2 separate regions of the Homo sapiens genome follow, and region 1 is linked to region 2. The links come from fine-mapping of genetic effects on gene expression. Tissue or cell type: ileum. Region 2 holds a variant in brackets; the other region holds the start of a gene. All regions are shown on one strand. Distances are between the middles of the regions.

Region 1 (8,109 bases), 830 kb before region 2:
CCCGTCTCTACTAAAAATACAAAAAATTAGCCGGGCGTGGTGGCAGGCGCCTGTAGTCCCAGCTACTCGGGAGGCTGAGGCAGGAGAATGGTGTGAACCCGGGAGGCGGAGCTTGCAGTGAGCCGAGATCGCGCCACTGCACTCCAGCCTGGGCGACAGAGTGAGACTCCGTCTCAAAAAAAAAAAAAAAAAAAAAAAAAAGAAGAGAAAGAAGGGAAGGAAGGAAGAGAAAGAAAGAAAGAAAGAAAGGAGACTACTAATGAGTGCATATAATTGTATCTTACCAAGAATGGTGCAGATGTAACATGTTGTCTCTCTCTCTACTTCCTGTAAGACATAAAGATGTCCACAATCACATTGACAGCAGAAATTGACCTGATTATAAATAAAACAGTAAGTAAGTAATTAGGGGAACTTTGATTCCCGTTCATGATATCAATAGCAAAAATATCTTAAAACAATGATCAAAATCTATAAAGGAATGCTCTTCCCGAGTGAAAAGGCTTCAAAAATGTTTAATACTATGTTAAGAATGTAAAACGTGTTTCAATACACAGCCAGATGGTCTTCAGAGAAAGAGGAAGAAAGTGGTCATAGGGTCTCCATCCCCTTTATCAGCTTTCATAGCCCATGAGTGATCACAAAGTGATGAGAGAATCCCAGTGTCCGGAAGCAGATTATTTTGTCTTCTGCTTCCCGAGCCCAGGGCAGGGGTGATTCCTAATGTCCAGAAATGCAGAGAGAGAGTCCTGATTTGGAAGGGGGAAGCGGGGAAAGATCAAAGCTTGGATGATACACAAAAGAATCTGAGTAGAGGGTATGAAGATCAGAAATACAATGAGAGGCTGCGCGTGGTGGCTCATGCCTGGAATCCCAGCACTTTGGGAGGCGGAAGTGGGAGGATTTGCTTGAGCCCAGGAGGTCCAGACTTGAAAACAGAACTGGGAGTGTCAGTGTGAAGGAAAAAGGCCTAGAGGACTCTGCAGGCACTGAGTGCTGCATGAAGGAGAGACGCATTCGCCTTCATTGCTAGGGGTAGGTGCTGCCGGGAGAGGGGGCGACCATTGCCCACACTTGGAAATGTTCTGTCCACAGAGGGAAACGGGCGACCCCCAAAGCACAGAGGGGCGGCCCCTCAGTCTCGCCGAGAAGTGAGGGAGAGCCCAGGGTGTAGAGCAGGAAAGGAATGAGATGGAAGATAACAATTAGAGTTGCAGGCAGCAAGAGGTCACCTTCAGGGTACTGCAGTGGTCTGACCCCATGTGGCTTGTGCATGGGACTGAGGACGAAGCTCTGATTTTTCTTTTTATCTTGCCCAAATTCCTATCTAAGGGGTCTGGAGAGTCATGCCCTACAAACCAAAAATTCTCATCAGAAGGGTTTCATTTAACTATATATTGTGACTTACTTTCCAATCTGACTCTGGCATAACATGAGACCAATAAGAAAATCAAAATATTTTACCCAAAAACATGTTTCTTTGCCATATCTTGAAATGGCCCTGCAAAGCTGTCCTTTGTGGGGAAAAATTTGCATCTGTAAAGATGTAAAGAATCTCTATTCACATAGATATTCACATCTTTTTCTACCGGACCCTTCCAATCCTGAAAAGATTGACTAAGACTCTAGCACCTTTTAAAAGTCTGAATAGGAAACAATTGTCATCTATTGTCTCTAAGGGCAGCCGCTACAAGACTTCAAAATAACCTTGGTCTCCACAATCTTTTCTCTTAACCTGAAGATTTCTTTTCTAGGGATCCCAGGGTTTTTTTTTTTTTTTTTTAATCTTTCTTTTTTATTTTTTTGAGACGGAGTCTTGCTCTGTTGCCCAGGCTGGAGTGCAATGGCGCGATCTTGGCTCACTGCAAGCTCCGCCTCCCGGGTTCAAGTGATTCTCCTGCCTCAGCCTCCTAGGATCCCAGGTCTTTAGATGAACTCAACCAATTGTCAACCAGGAAATGTTTAAATCTATGTATAAGCTGGAAGCCCCCTGACTTTGAGTTGTTCCACCTTTCTGGACCAAACCAATGTGTATCTTAAATGTATTTGATTGACACCTCATGCCTCCCTAAAATGTATAAAACAAGCTGCACCCTGACCACCTTGGGCACACGTTCTTGGGTCCTCCTGAGGGCTGTGTCATGGGCCATGGTCACTCTTATTTGGCTCAGAATAAATCTCTTCAAATATTCTACAGAGTTCGCTTCTTTTCGTTGACAGGACATGGGCATGCATAGAAGATAAAGAGACAGGAGCATGCAGATGTGTTGGGTTTCTGCCTCTGAGTAACCAGGGGAGTGACCTGGCCACTTTTAGAAGGGCCGAGCGGCCAGTGAGTGAGGACACACTGGAGCCAGCAGGCACTGAGAGCCTAGAAGTGGCCGTGGTGTCTGTCCAGGTGAAACCTGACCAAGGATAGACACAGCTGGTGTGGGAGCGGGGAGGGCAGAGAGGAGGGGTGGGCAAGGTCCGCAGGGCTGCGAAACCCCAGGGTGTGAGTGGGAGAGAAGCGATTGGTTGAGGGATTTCCCCTCAACGCCTTTTCGGGGATGCTGGGAGGGGTGTTTGCTCCTAGCAGGATTCAGGCACAAAACCAGTCTTCTGAGAAAGACAATGAGCTTTGTGAAAGGAAAATAAATCTCAAGGCCCGCAAGTCAATAAGCTAAAGGGAAAAGTCAAGCGGGGAACTGCTTAGGGCCTCTGCCTCCCATTCTAGTCAAAGTCCCCCCTTTGCTCACTGAGATAGATGCGTATCTGATTGCCTCCTTTGGAAAGGCTCATCAGAAACTCAAAAGAAGGCAACTGTTCCTCTCTCACCTATCTGTGACCTGGAAGCCCCCTCCCTGCTTACAGTCTTCCTGCCTTTGCTTCAAGTTTTCCGGCCTTTCCAGACCGAATCAATGCACTTCTTACATTATTGATGGATGTCTAACACTGAATTGCTACATCTCCAATAATTTTCTGTCTGTCGAAGAGAAAAAGACCTTAGATATCATTTGTGCTTTGTTTAGAACACAGAAGGAAGGGATAAGGTGTACGCCGTGCTCGTGAGGTTTTTTTGTTTATTTGTTCGTTTGTTTTACCCTAGAGAGCACACACAATTCTCATATTCTAAAAGTAATAGCAAAAGACGCAATTACGTTTCACCAACCTAATAGCATCTTCACCGGGAAAGAGATTGATTTAAAATTGTACATGGAGAGAAAACCAAAATGAGCATTTTAATACCCTCAGCATTGCTTTCTGACCTACAATGACATGCTGCCAATGGTCAGAAAACGGAATAAAAGCAAAATACTGTACAAATGTAATGAGAAAACCCCAAACCACCACAAACTAGGGGAAGATGGTTTTTGCAGCAATCCTGCCCAGCAGTGGTTTATCTCTGGGTGTGGAGATTTAGGAAAAGTGCTCTTTTTCTAATTTTTCTTTTCTTTTCCTTTTTTTTTTTTTTTTTTTTTTTTTGAGATAGGGTCTGGCTGTTTCACCCAGGCTGGAGAGCAATGGTGCGACCATAGTTCACTGCAGCCTCAAATTCTTGGGCTCAAGCGATCCTCCTACCTCAGCCTCCCAAGTAGCTGAAACTACAGGCACATGCCACTATGCCTGGCTATTGATTTTTTTTTTTTTAAGTAGAGGTGGGGTTTCCTCTTTTGCTCAGGCTGGTCTCAAACTCCTGGGCTCAAGCAATCCACCCGCCTCGACCTCCCAAAGTGCTGGGATTACAGACGTGAGCCACCGTGCCCGACCTAATTTTTCTTTCTCCCGCAATGTTATGTATTTATAAGTAAAAATATGAATATTTTTTCTTGGAGAAAAACGTTAAATAAATAAAGAGATGGTGATAACAGCCTTGAATGAGTTTAATTTTGGAAACTGTGACATTGAGGTGACCCAGAGCATGGGGCCTGCCCAAGGCCTCTCCTGCAGATTAGAAAACAGATCCCCCTTCTCCAGGAAAGAGCTGCATTCCTAGGCCTGTAAGTCACGGGTACGTTTCTGCTTTATCAAAACAAACTGGGCAATTATTCAGAGACAGAAAAGGGAACGGGGAGCTCTTTGTTCACCACGCTATTCATGCCTGGTCACGGAGCCCAAATCCAGCACAAATGAACATTCACAGGACTCACCTCTGCTCCTGGGCTCCTTCCTGAATCCCCGATCAAGAAGAGGAAGGTTCTCTCCCAAAGGAAGCAAGCGTGAAGGCAGAGAGCACTTGCACAAGGCTTTGAGCTGGGAATGATTAACTTCGAGTTTGTTTTTCCCAAGTCAGAAGATCAGAGAGAGTTAGGACAGACAGAGCAGACTCCCCCCACATCGCAGCATGGGGGAATCTCAAAGCCACGCCCACGTCTACCAAACCAGTGGTCAGTTTCCTTAGGTTTTTATTTTGTTTTATTTTTTGTAGAGACGGGGTTTTGCCATGTGGCCTAGGCTGGTCTCAAAGTCCTGAGCTCCAGTGATCTGCCCTCCTTGGCCTCCCGAAGTGCTGGGATTACAGATGTGAGTCACCGTATTCTGCCAGTGTCCTTAGGTTTTTAAGTGATTGCCTGTGCTGTTACACAGGGTGCTGGCTATAATATGATCATATCCAACCTGGCATGGTGGCTCATGCCTGTAATCCCAGCGCTTTGGGAGGACGAGGCAGGAAGATTGCTTGAGGCCAGGAGTTTCAGAGCAGCCTGGGCAGCAAAGTGAGATGCTGTCTCTTCAAAAATAAAAAATATTAGGCTGGGCAGTGTGGCTTATGCCCATAATCCTAGCACTTGGGGAGGTTGAGGCAGGAAGATCGCTTGAGCCCAGGACTTCGAGACCAGCCCGGGCATCATAGCAAGACCCTGTCTCTATAAATAATAAAACAATTAGCCAGGCATGGTGGCATGTGTCTCTACTGCCAGCTACTCAGGAGGCTGAGGTGGAAAGATTGTTTGAGCCTGGGAGGTTGAAGCTGCAGTTTCACTCCAGCCTGAGTGACAGAGCAAGACCCTGCCTCAAAAAAAAATGTTTTAAAGAAGTTATTTGTTGAGTGGTAAATGAAGTAAATAAGAAATAATAAAGATAAGATAAAAATAAAAAAGAAAACATTTCTTAAAGTAAATAAACAAACAAACAAAAGAAGTAAAAAGGCCAGGCGCAGTGGCTCATGCCTGTAATTCCAGCACTTTGGGAGGACGAGGTGGGCCGATCACTTGAACCCAAGAGCTCGAGACTAGCCTGGCCAACATGGTGAAACCCTGTCTCTGCTAAAAATAGAAAAATTAGCCAGGCATGGTGTCACATGCCTGTAATCCCAGCTACTCGGGAGGCTGAGGCAAGAAAATTGCTTGAACCCCGGAGTCGGAGGTTACAGTGAGGCAAGATCGCAGCATTGTACTCCAGCCTCAGCAACGGAGAGAGACTCTGTCTCAAAAATTATAGTAATAATAATAATAAACATAAGATAAAAAGAAAAAAAATAAGCAAAAAAAAAAGTAAAAAAAGGATTATTTTCAAGCAATGCTTGGTTTAAAAACATAGAAAAGACGGGCTGGGCACGGTGGCTCACGCCTGTAATCCCAGCGCTTTGGGAGGCTGAGGTGGGCTGATCACCTGAGGTCAGGTGTTTGAGACTAGCCTGGCCAACATGGCAAAACCCCGTCTGTACTAAAAATACAAAAATTAGCTGGATGTGGTGGCGTGCACCTGTAATCCCAGCTACTTGGGAGGCTGAGATAGGAGAATCGCTTGAACCCGGGAGACGGAGCTTGCAGTGAGCCGAGACTGTGCCGCTGCACTCCAGCCTGGGCGGCAGAGTGAGACTCCGTCTCAAAAAAGAAAAGACAAGACAAGACCAAGAGGGCAGGAAGCAGTTTCTGAGGCACTGCATGATCATTGCTGGGAAGTTACTCTGTAGAATGGAACCCTACGCAATGGTCCCTATTATTCAACCATCCTTGACCTACAAGGACGGGGTTTCATAGAGTTCCACCTGCTGTCTCTTCGCAACTTCATATGCAGCCACATGCTGGGTCTGTGAGAAGTCACATAGCCTACCTGATCTCACTTCCTCCTTATGTGGGGGTGGAAACCACCCTACTTCTGGGATGAGGAGCTGACACGCTGGCACACTCCAGCCTGACTCATTTTTACAAGTGGACGGTTTTGGTGGCATGTCTCAAAACGAGTATTAGGAGGGGTGTCAGAAATGTTTTCTTTTCCTGCCACAGGTGTGTGCCCTAATGGTAATTGCTTTCACTTTGTGATTTTTGGCAACAAATCTTAAGTCATTTCCTCGTAGGGGGCCTAAAGGAATATTTTCACCTATATTTTAATTTATATATTCATAATTATTATATATAATATAGTATAACTTTTGTACATCATACATAGTATAAATGTATCACATAAAATATGTAAATAAGGCTGGGTGTGGTGGCTCACGCCTATAATCCCAGCACTTAGGGAGGCCGAGGTGGGAGGATTGCTTGAGCCCAGGAGTTCAAGTTAAGTCTGAGCAACAAAGTGAGAGCCTATCTCTAGAAAAAAAAAACAAAACAATAAAATATATAAATATAATATATAAATATATAATAAAGCATAATTTTTCTTTATTAAAATATGCATGCTTTTCTTTACAAAAATAATATATACTTTAAAATATATATGTACATATATGTATAGATACATAAAACATGTACATATACGTACACATCTACATATAAATACATGTTATAATATGCACGTATAAATATAAACATATAACATATAAACATGTACCTATAGACATCTACATACATGTTTATGTGTTCATATATGTATGCTTATATGTATATAATGTATACATGTACATGCATGTATATATACATACATATATGTATACATAACATATATACCTATAAAACATGTACGTATATACATGTAACGTTAATATATGTACTTTTTAAAGTAAAAATGTTTATGTGTGTATGTATAGTACATATATACATATAAAACAAGTACATATATGCATATAACATATATATGTACATGATTTTTCAAGGAAAAAGCATATTATGGGCTGCTTCTGACTTGCCTGGGGAACATGACTGGTTGTGTTTGTTTTATCGGGCTGGTTATATTGGTGTCTAAATATAGGACCCTCAAACATGTTTGAACAGTCATATGACGTACGGTTAGATATCAAGTCTGTGGCCTACCTCTGAACTGATGTATTTATGTATTTAGTGACACAATAAAAGCAGATTTTTCTTTTCCAAAGAACTCTGCACTTTAACCCTTGGAATGTTAAACATTTTGGTCCAGATTTAATTTTTACTACTGAATAAAACTTTCTACTTTTTTATTCTAAAGACACAAGGTATCTTTAGAAAGAGACAAGAGGCTGGGCGCGGTGGCTCACACTTGTAATCCCAGCTGGCACACTCTGGCCTTTGGGAGGCCGAGATGGGAAGATCACTTGAGGCCAGGAGTTTGAGACCAGCCTGGACAACACGGCAAGATCCTGTCTGAATTTAAAATAAAACAAAATAATAAAATATAGAATACAGTAAAATATAATACAATGCAATAGAAATAAAGATAAAAGAAGCAGACGAGGAAACACCCATGCAAGACTGACAATATAGCCTTTGATTCTCTTCCGGGGAGAAGGAATCCCAGCCCTCCTTTCCCGCCCTGAGCTTCAGCCCCGGGCTGCGAGCCTGTGTTCAACGCTTCGCCTGGGCCCTGTTCCCAAACCCAGTTTCGCTTTTCACCTCCGGTGTCTCTTCGATGTTCAGTGCACGTGCCTTCAGCATCTCTAAGATAAGAATCTAGTGTGGATGCAATGTCTCCCATTTGGTGCATCTTCCCTCGTTGCTTTTTTTTTACGCATTACGTTTGGAAATCTCCCATGTAAAATCTGTACTTGAGATTTTCACTGATGATTATTATTATTTTTTGAAAGCAAATTACTTTTAAAACATTGACAGGGACTTGTTTGAAAAGACGCAGTTTAGCATAAAAGAATATCCCCTGGAGCGTCTCTGCACGTGCAAAAGCCGGCCTGTAAGAAGAAGCCCCAGGAAGGCCAGTTACCTGACATGCAGCTGTGTAAGGGCGACACTGGCTGGATGTAGCGGGGAGGCTGCT
Region 2 (8,109 bases):
CATGGGAAGACTGTTCTGGGTCATCGTTTACCCATTGTTTAGACTTTGATGGCTGTCTATGGAGGTGTCTCCAAGTTCGGGTAGGGGGGCCTGGCTCTCAGGTCAGGAGGACTCTGGACTAAGTCTTGAATGTTTCCAGGTGCACCCCATACAAAGGGTCTGTCTCAGGACTCCTACAGCTGAGGGAATTTACAAATTCTTCTTCCCATCTTGGTCTGCTCTGTCTATCCCCCTCACCTGGATGTGTTCCTATACCCATACCCGGTGGCTGTGGTCCAATTTTATTCTAAAAGTTTTCACTAGGAACACATGCTCCAACCCTCATCCAAGGCTAGAATCTTCCCAGCAGTTTCCCAGGGCACCTGCTCTGAGATTTTACCTCTTGGGGAGAGAAAGGATGAGATTCTAGAGTGTGTGTTTTATTTATTTAATTTTTTTTCTAAAGTGAATTGGAAAACAAAAGAATGAACCTCCTCAAACTTCAGTATGGCATGGAGTTGGACTATGACAAGAGAAGCCAGTGGAAGTATAGAGACATCTTGGACTTAAGAAATGCTGTGTACCTATGGTTTGACAGAGAGTAGTGGATTCCCTGACATTAGCCTGTGTGACCTGAAATAAAGCTGCAGGTGTCCCATGGCTGAGTAGGATGCGGGACGTCTTAGTGGGGGCCACTGAAGGAAATTCTTAGGTGACAGAGAGTCAGATAGTGGCAGATCAGAAGATTTGGATAGAACCAGGAAACAGACACGTTAAAAAAAATTGCAGTAAGAATATCTAACATGAGATTTATCCTCTCAAGTTTTTAAGTATGCAATACAGTATTATTATTACTTGTTAACTCTTTAAAACATTTGAATAGTTTTTGGGGAACAGGTGGTGTTTGGTTACACGTATAAGTTCTTTAGTGGTGATTTCTGAGATTTTGGTGCACCGTCATCTGAGCAGTATACACTGTACCCAGTGTGTCCCCTTTGATCCCCCACCCCCCTCCCACCCTTCCCCCTGAGTCCCAGAGTCCATTATGCCATTCCTATGCCTTTGCATCCTCATAGCTTAGCTTCTGCTTATAAGTGAGAGCATACGATGTTTGGTTTTCCATCCCTGAATGACTTCACTTAGAATAATGGTCTCCAATTCCATCCAGCTTGCTGCAATTGCCATTATTTCATTCCTTTTTATGGCTGAGTAGTACAGAATACAGTATTATTAACTACAGGCGCAGTGTTGTAGACAGCAGATCAGAACTTATTCGTCTTGTATAACTGAAGCTTTATACCCACAGAACAACTCCCTACTGCCCCTCCTCGGAGCACCTGGCAACCACCATTCATCCTCTGCTTCTATGAGTTTCATGAGTTTATACTCTGCATATAAGTGAGACATGGCAGTATTTGTCTTTCTGTGCCTGGCAGATTCTGCTTAGCATAATGTCCTCCAGGTTCATCTGTGTTGTTGCCAATGATTGGTTGCCTTTCTTTCTTAAAGCTGAATAGGATTCCACTGTATATATGCATGACATTTTCTTTACGCATTCATCCATCCACGGACACTTAGATGGTTTCCATGCCCAGGCTATAGTGAATGATGCTGCAGTGAACATGGGGGTGCAGATGTCTATTTGAGATCTTGATTTTATTTCATTTGGACAAATACGAGTAGGCTTGCTGGGTCACAGTAGATTTATTTTTAATTTTTTGAGGAACAGAAAATGGGCATTTTTTAAAACCACATCTGGAAGAGGGGAGGAGCCACAGAGTTCATTTCCAACACCTTCCTGTATGTTCTTTTCCGGTAGTTGTGCATAGTGTATCATACATAAGTTAGCTGCTTTGCAAACAGTGTGTAGTTCAATCTTCCCTTACCTTTGGAAACAACCTGGTCTCAAAAAGCTTATCTGTGTTGTCTCTGAAATAACCTTTGGGTGCAGTCTGTACAGTTAAACCATGTGAATTCAGTAACTTGCAGCTAATGCTTTTGCTATCCTTATAAAATGAGGAGACAGACGCTTGATCCTGACCTAGCTCTTGATATGGTTTGGCTCTGTGTTCTCACCCAAATCTCCTGTTGAATTGTAATTCCGAATGGTGGGAGGTGATTGGATCATGGGGGCGGATTTCCTCCTTGATGTTCTTGTAGTGAGTGAGTTCTCACAAGATCTGGTTGTTTAAAAATGTGTGACACTTCCCCCTTTGTGCACTCTCGCTCTCTCCTGCTGGGCATGTGAAGATTGTGCCTGCTTCCCCTTCGCCTTCCACCATGATTGTAAGTTTTCTGAGGCCTCCCCACCCATGCCTCCTGTACAGCCTGTGAAGCTGTGAGCCAATTAAACCTCTTTTCTCCATAAATTACTCAGTTTCACGTATGTCTTCATAGCAGTGTGAGAATGGACGTATACAGCTCTATTGAGTCCAAGAGTCCCAACTTCAGGCATTCCTGTCTGGGGACAAACACTCACCATATTAGTCTGCTAGGTCCCACAGTCCTCAGAAATTTATTTTCTCACAGTTCTGCAGGCCGGAAGTCCAAGAACAGGATGCTGTTAAGATTGGGGTCTAGTGAGGACTCTTTTCCTGGCTGGCAGATGGCCACCTTCTCACTGTATCCTCACATGGCCTTTCCTTTGTCCTAAAGCAGAAAGGCGGTGGTGGAGATGGAAAGAGAGAGAAAGAGAGAGAATGAGGGAACTGTGGTTGTCCAGGGTTGGCAGAAGAAGGAATGGGGAATTGTTTAGTGGGTACAGAGTTTCAGTTATGCAAGACATATAAGCTCTGATCTACTGTACAGAATCATGCCTATAGTTAACAATACTCTATTATGTACTTAAGTATTTAAGAGGGTAAATCTCATATTAAGGGTTCTTATCACAATGAGAGAGAGAGAGAGAGATCTGTCTTCATCTTCTTATGAGGACACAAGTCCTATAGGATGAGGGCCCCACTCTTATGAGCTCATTGAGTCTTTATTATCTGCTGATAGACTCTATCTCCAAATACAGCCACATTAGGGTTAGGGTTTCCCCATATGAATTTTGAAGGGACATGGTTCAGTCTGTAACACCTACTCCAGCCTGGAGCAATGTGCTCTCTTTCCTTTGGCTGATGGTCTTGATGGAGTAGGAAGAACTTCATCGTCATCCTATACAGCACCTGCAGATGCTGGGACTTCTCTAGTGGGATGCAGCTTGTTTCCAAAGTAAGTAAGTGGAAGTCGGGGCACAGTGGCTCATGCCCATAACCTTAGCTCTCTGGGAGGCTGAGGGCAGAGGATTCCTTGAGCCCAGGAGTTTGAGACCAGTTTGGACAACATAGTGAGACCCTGTCTTTACCAAAAATTTGAAATTAGCCAGGTATGGTGGTGCATGCCTGTGGTCCCAGCTACTTGGGAGGCTGGGAGGTGGGAGGATTACTTGTGACTGGGTGTTTGAGGCTGCAGTGAGTTATGATCATGCCACTGCACTCCAGCCTGGGCAACAGACGGAGACCCTGCCCCCAATCCCGCCCCCACCAAAAAAAAGTAAGTGAAAACTGGCTGGGCACGGTGGCTCATGCCTGTAATCCCAGCACTTTGGGAGGCCGAGGCGGGCGGATCACGAGGTCAGGAGATCGAGACCATCCTGGCTAACACGGTGAAACCCCGTCTCTACTAAAAATCCAAAAAAATTAGCCGGGCGTGGTGATGGGCGCCTGTAGTCCCAGCTACTCGGGAAGCTGAGGCAGGTGAATGGCCTGAACCCGGGAGGCGGAGCTTGCAGTGAGCTGAGATAGCACCACTGCACTCCAGCCTGGGCAACAGAGCTAGACTTCGTCTTAAAAAAAAAAAAAAAAAAAAAGTAAGTGAAAACTTCAGGAATGTGCTGGGACAGGTTTGAAAACTCATGGTTTTCTCCCCTGGTCACCCAGCACTGGAAGCTCTATATGCTTGAGGTACTTTCAGGTGTTTCTGACCACATGATAAGTAGAATTATCTTTTCACACCATTGATTGTTACTTCTAGCTGGGATATAATTGGTGTGCCACTTACCTGCACTTTTTTCATGATGAGGCCAATGTTATTATCTTATAAATAAGTATGGATCTTAATTGACAAACTTTCTGCTAATTCTATATTACCCTTCCCTTCTACGTCCATCAGGTTTCTATGTTGTCTTCTAGGAAACCCACGAAAGATTGTAAAGTCAATAAGATTTAAACATCTTTCAAATTCCCAATGGCCAGACAGAAATATTTGTTTGCAAAAATTTCCCCAAAGAGGTGCACAGATAAATCTTTTAAGATGAAGCCATGCGAAAATATAAAGGAAGGGCTGGGCGCGGTGGCTCAGGCCTGTCATCCCAGCACTTTGAGAGGCCAAGGTGGGCGCATCACTTGAGGTCA[G/A]GAGCTTGAGACCAGCCTGGCCAACATGGTGAAACCCCATCTCTACTAAAAATACAAAAATTAGCCGGGTGTGGTGGCACATGCCTGTAATCCCATCTACTTGGGAGGCTGAAGCAGGAGAATTGCTTGAACCCAGGAGGCGGCGGTTGCAGTGAGCTGAGATTGCACCACTGCACTCCAGACTGGGAAACAGAGTGAGACTCTGTCTCAAAAAAGAAAAAAATATAAAGGAAGACTGGTATCTGTTTGTCTGTTGAGTGTTGGACAATGTGGGGATGGGGAGGACAGGATTGTCTCTGCTCTTAACTTTCTTTTTAAATTAAACTTTTTTTGGAGATGAGGTCTTGCTCTGTTGCCCAGGCTGGAGTGCAGTTGTGCAATCGTGGTTCACTGCAGCCTTGGCTGCCTGGGCTGAAGCGATCCTCCCAGCTTAGCCTCCTGAGTTCCTGGGACCACAGGTGTGCTCCACCATACCCACTTAGTTTTTTATTTTTTGTAAGGTTGGGGTCGTGCTGTGTTGCCCCACTTGTCTTGAGCCCCTGGGCTCTAGTGATCCTTTTACCTTGGCCTCCCAAAATGCTGGGATTACATGCATGAGCCACTGTGCCTGGCCCTGGCTCTTAACTTTTGGGGTAACTGAAGTGATGCCCACCGTAGGTTTTGAGACTTAGGAGAAGACTAATTTTTTCTCTATGGAGAGGAAATTTATAGAACATAAAACTCAACATTTTGTTATTTTTATTATTTATTTATTTTTGAGACAGAGTCTCACTCTGTTGCCCAGACTGGAGTGCAGTGGTGCAATCTCAGCTCACTGCAACCTCTGCCTCCTGGGTTCAAGCAATTCTCCTGCCTCAGCTTCCCAAGTACCTGGAATTACAGGCGCCCACCACCATGTCCGGCTAGTTTTTGTATTTTCAGTAGAGACGGGGTTTCACCACGTTGGTCAAGCTGGTCTCGAACTCCTGACCTCAGGTGATCCACCCACCTTGGACTCCCAAGGTGCTGGGATTACAGGCGAGAGCCGCTGCACCTGGCAAAATTCACCATTTTAAAGTGTACAGCTCAGTGAGATTTAGTATGTTCACAACCACGTCTCTATCTAGTTCCAGAACATTTTCATATTTCCAAAACGGGACCCTGTACCCACTAGCAGTCACTTCCCATTCCGCCTCCCCAGCCTCTAATGGCCATGTATTTTCCGTCTCTGTGGATTTGCCTATTTTGGACACTTTATATAAATGGCATCATATAGCACGTGGTCTTTTGTGTCTGACTCGTTTCGCTGAGTGTGCTGTTATTCAGGTGCACCCACACTGTAACCTGTTTCCGAGCCGCATTCCTCTCTAGGGTTGCATCATGTTCCCTTGTGTGGATGGACCACGTTGTGTTTTTCTTCATCCACTGATGGTCATTTGGGTTGATTCCACTTGAGATGTTTTTTAACCTACGACTCAGGACACCTGGACTAGATTATTCATGATTTCTTCCAGATCTGCGATCTTAGATTTAAATAAATAGCAGTGTGCCATTTGGGTCACAGATGTTAGTTCTGTGTGAAACAGATCTATAGATAGGAAGAAGAAGTTTAACGAAGAGAAGATACAGACGGGCTGTGAAAAGTACCTGGGAAGAAATTGAAACTGCAACAGGGAAATGATGATAAAGTTTTTGGTGTGCAATGGATTATAAAAGGCGCTATACAACGGAGAGAATGTGTCCTTATTGTGTTCAGAGGATGAGAAGGTACGCAGGTGTGAGTCTGGCCTTGAATCTTCAACCCACTACTTCATCATTATTTTATTAAAACAAAACTTCGATGCATTTCAAATCATTGTCTTTTCCACATTAGGTAAAATTACATGCTATTTTTCATTTGAAGTATTTTTGGTTTTTGGTGGAGTAATGCTCTTATGGGTCTTTCTAATTTTATTTATTTATTTATTTGTTTATTTATTTATTTATTTATTTATGACAGGGTCTCTCTGTGTCACCCAGGCTGGAGTGCAGTGGCACGGTCTCAAGTAGCTGGGATGAAAAGCACACACCACCATGTCCAGCTAATTTTTTATTTTTATTTTTACTTTTTGAGATAGAGTCTCACTCTGTTGCCCAGGCTGGAGTACAGTGCTGCAATCTTGGCTCACTGCAACCTCCACTTCTCGGGGTCAAGAGATTCTCCTCGTTCAGCCACCTGAGTAGCTGGGATTATAGGCATGTACCACCAAGTTAGGCTAATTTTTGTATTTTTCATAGAGACAGGGTTTTACCATGTTAGCCAGGTTGGTCTCGAACTCCTGGCTTCAAGTGATCTGCCCACCTCGGCCTCCCAGAGTGCTGGAATTACAGGCATGAGCCACTGTGCCTGGCCAATTTTTTAAAAATTTAAGTTAAATTAAAATTATTTAATTTTTAATTTTTTACATGTTTATTTTAGACTCAGGGCTACATGTGCAGGTTTCTGACCTGGGTATATTGCATGATGCTGAGGTTTGGGCTCCTAATGGACCTGTCACCCAGGTAGTGAGCCTAGTACCTGGTAAGTACCTTTCCATCCGCTGTCCCCCTTCCTTCCTCTCCCGTCTAGCAGTCCCCAGAGTCTATTGTTCCCATCTTTATGTCCATGGGTACTCAATGTTTAGCTCCCACTTGTAAATGAGAAGATGTGCTATTTGACTTTCTGTTCCTGCCTTAATTTCCTTAGGATGATGGCCTCCAGCTCCATCCATGTTACTGCAAAGGACATGATTTTGTTCTTTTTATGGCTGTGTAGTATTCCTTGGTGTAGAGGTACCATATTTTCTTTATCCAGTCTGCCATGGATGGGCACCTGGATTGATTCCATGTCTTTGCTATTGTGAATAGTGCTGTGATGAACATATGTGTCCGTGTGTGTTTTTGGTAGAATGATTTATTTTCCTTTGGGTAGAAACTATTTTTTTAACAACTTTATTGAGATATAGCTTACATATGATATCATTTACCCACTTAATGCATGCAATTCAGTGTTTCGTAGTATATTCAGAGTTGTGCAACCATCACCACTATCAGTTTTAGAGCATTTGATTTTTTTTTTTTTTTTTTTTTTTTTTTGAGACAGAGTCTCGCTCTGTTGCCAGGCTGGACCGCAGTGGCGTGATATCAGCTCACTGCAGTCTCTGCCTCCAGGGTTCCAGCGATTCTCCTGCCTCAGTCTCCTGGGTAGCTGAGATTAAGGCACGCGTCACCACACCCAGCTAATTTTTGTATTTTTAGTAGAGACAGTATTTCACCATGTTGCCCAGGCTGGTCTCGAACTCCCGATCTCAGGTGATCACCTGCCTAGGCCTCCCGAAGTGCTGGGATTACAGGCGTGAGCCACCGCTCCCAGCCGAGCATTTGATTTCTTTGGTAAGACACTTTGTACCCTTTAGCTATAACCACCTTAACACCCCCTGCCCCCATCCCTAAGCAACCACAAATCTACTTTCCATCTTTATAGACTTCCTTGTTTTGAATTATCCTTTACATGGGATCATACAGAACACAGCGTTTTATGACTGGCTTCCATCACTTAGCAAATTGCCTTCAAGGTTCACTCATGTGGTGGCCTGTGTCAGAGCTTCAGTCCTTTTTAGGGCTGAAGAATATTCCATGATATGGATGGACCACATTTAGTTTACACATTCATTTGCTGACAGGCCATTTGAGGTTGTTACCACCTTTAGGCTACCATGAATAATGCTGCTGTGAA

Alleles and levels. Positions count from the first base shown, and alleles are read on the strand shown. Sizes are in standard deviations (SD) of each study's normalised expression.
For the expression in ileum of the gene that starts at base 4,248 in region 1, allele G in region 2 goes with a higher level than allele A (large effect, 1.2 SD a copy in GTEx).

Evidence for each region. PIP is the estimated chance that this variant, and not a neighbour inherited with it, causes the effect.
Region 1: it holds the start of ARSL, and the variant in region 2 is fine-mapped to the expression of ARSL in ileum (GTEx, PIP above 0.99).

The regions. Positions count from the first base shown.
Region 1 is chrX:2,960,094-2,968,202 of GRCh38, forward strand. ARSL (arylsulfatase L) reads right to left here and starts at 4,248. Exons shown (of 11, transcript NM_000047.3): 1 at 4,131-4,248; 2 at 285-327. The coding sequence starts at 307. RefSeq lists enhancers at 433-1,256, 1,257-2,082, 3,733-4,556, 5,887-5,946.
Region 2 is chrX:3,793,062-3,801,170 of GRCh38, forward strand. No RefSeq gene overlaps it. Among named protein-coding and RNA genes, the nearest start is that of TRI-GAT1-1, 41 kb to the right of the region's middle. The variant G/A (reference allele first, on the strand shown) is at 4,377.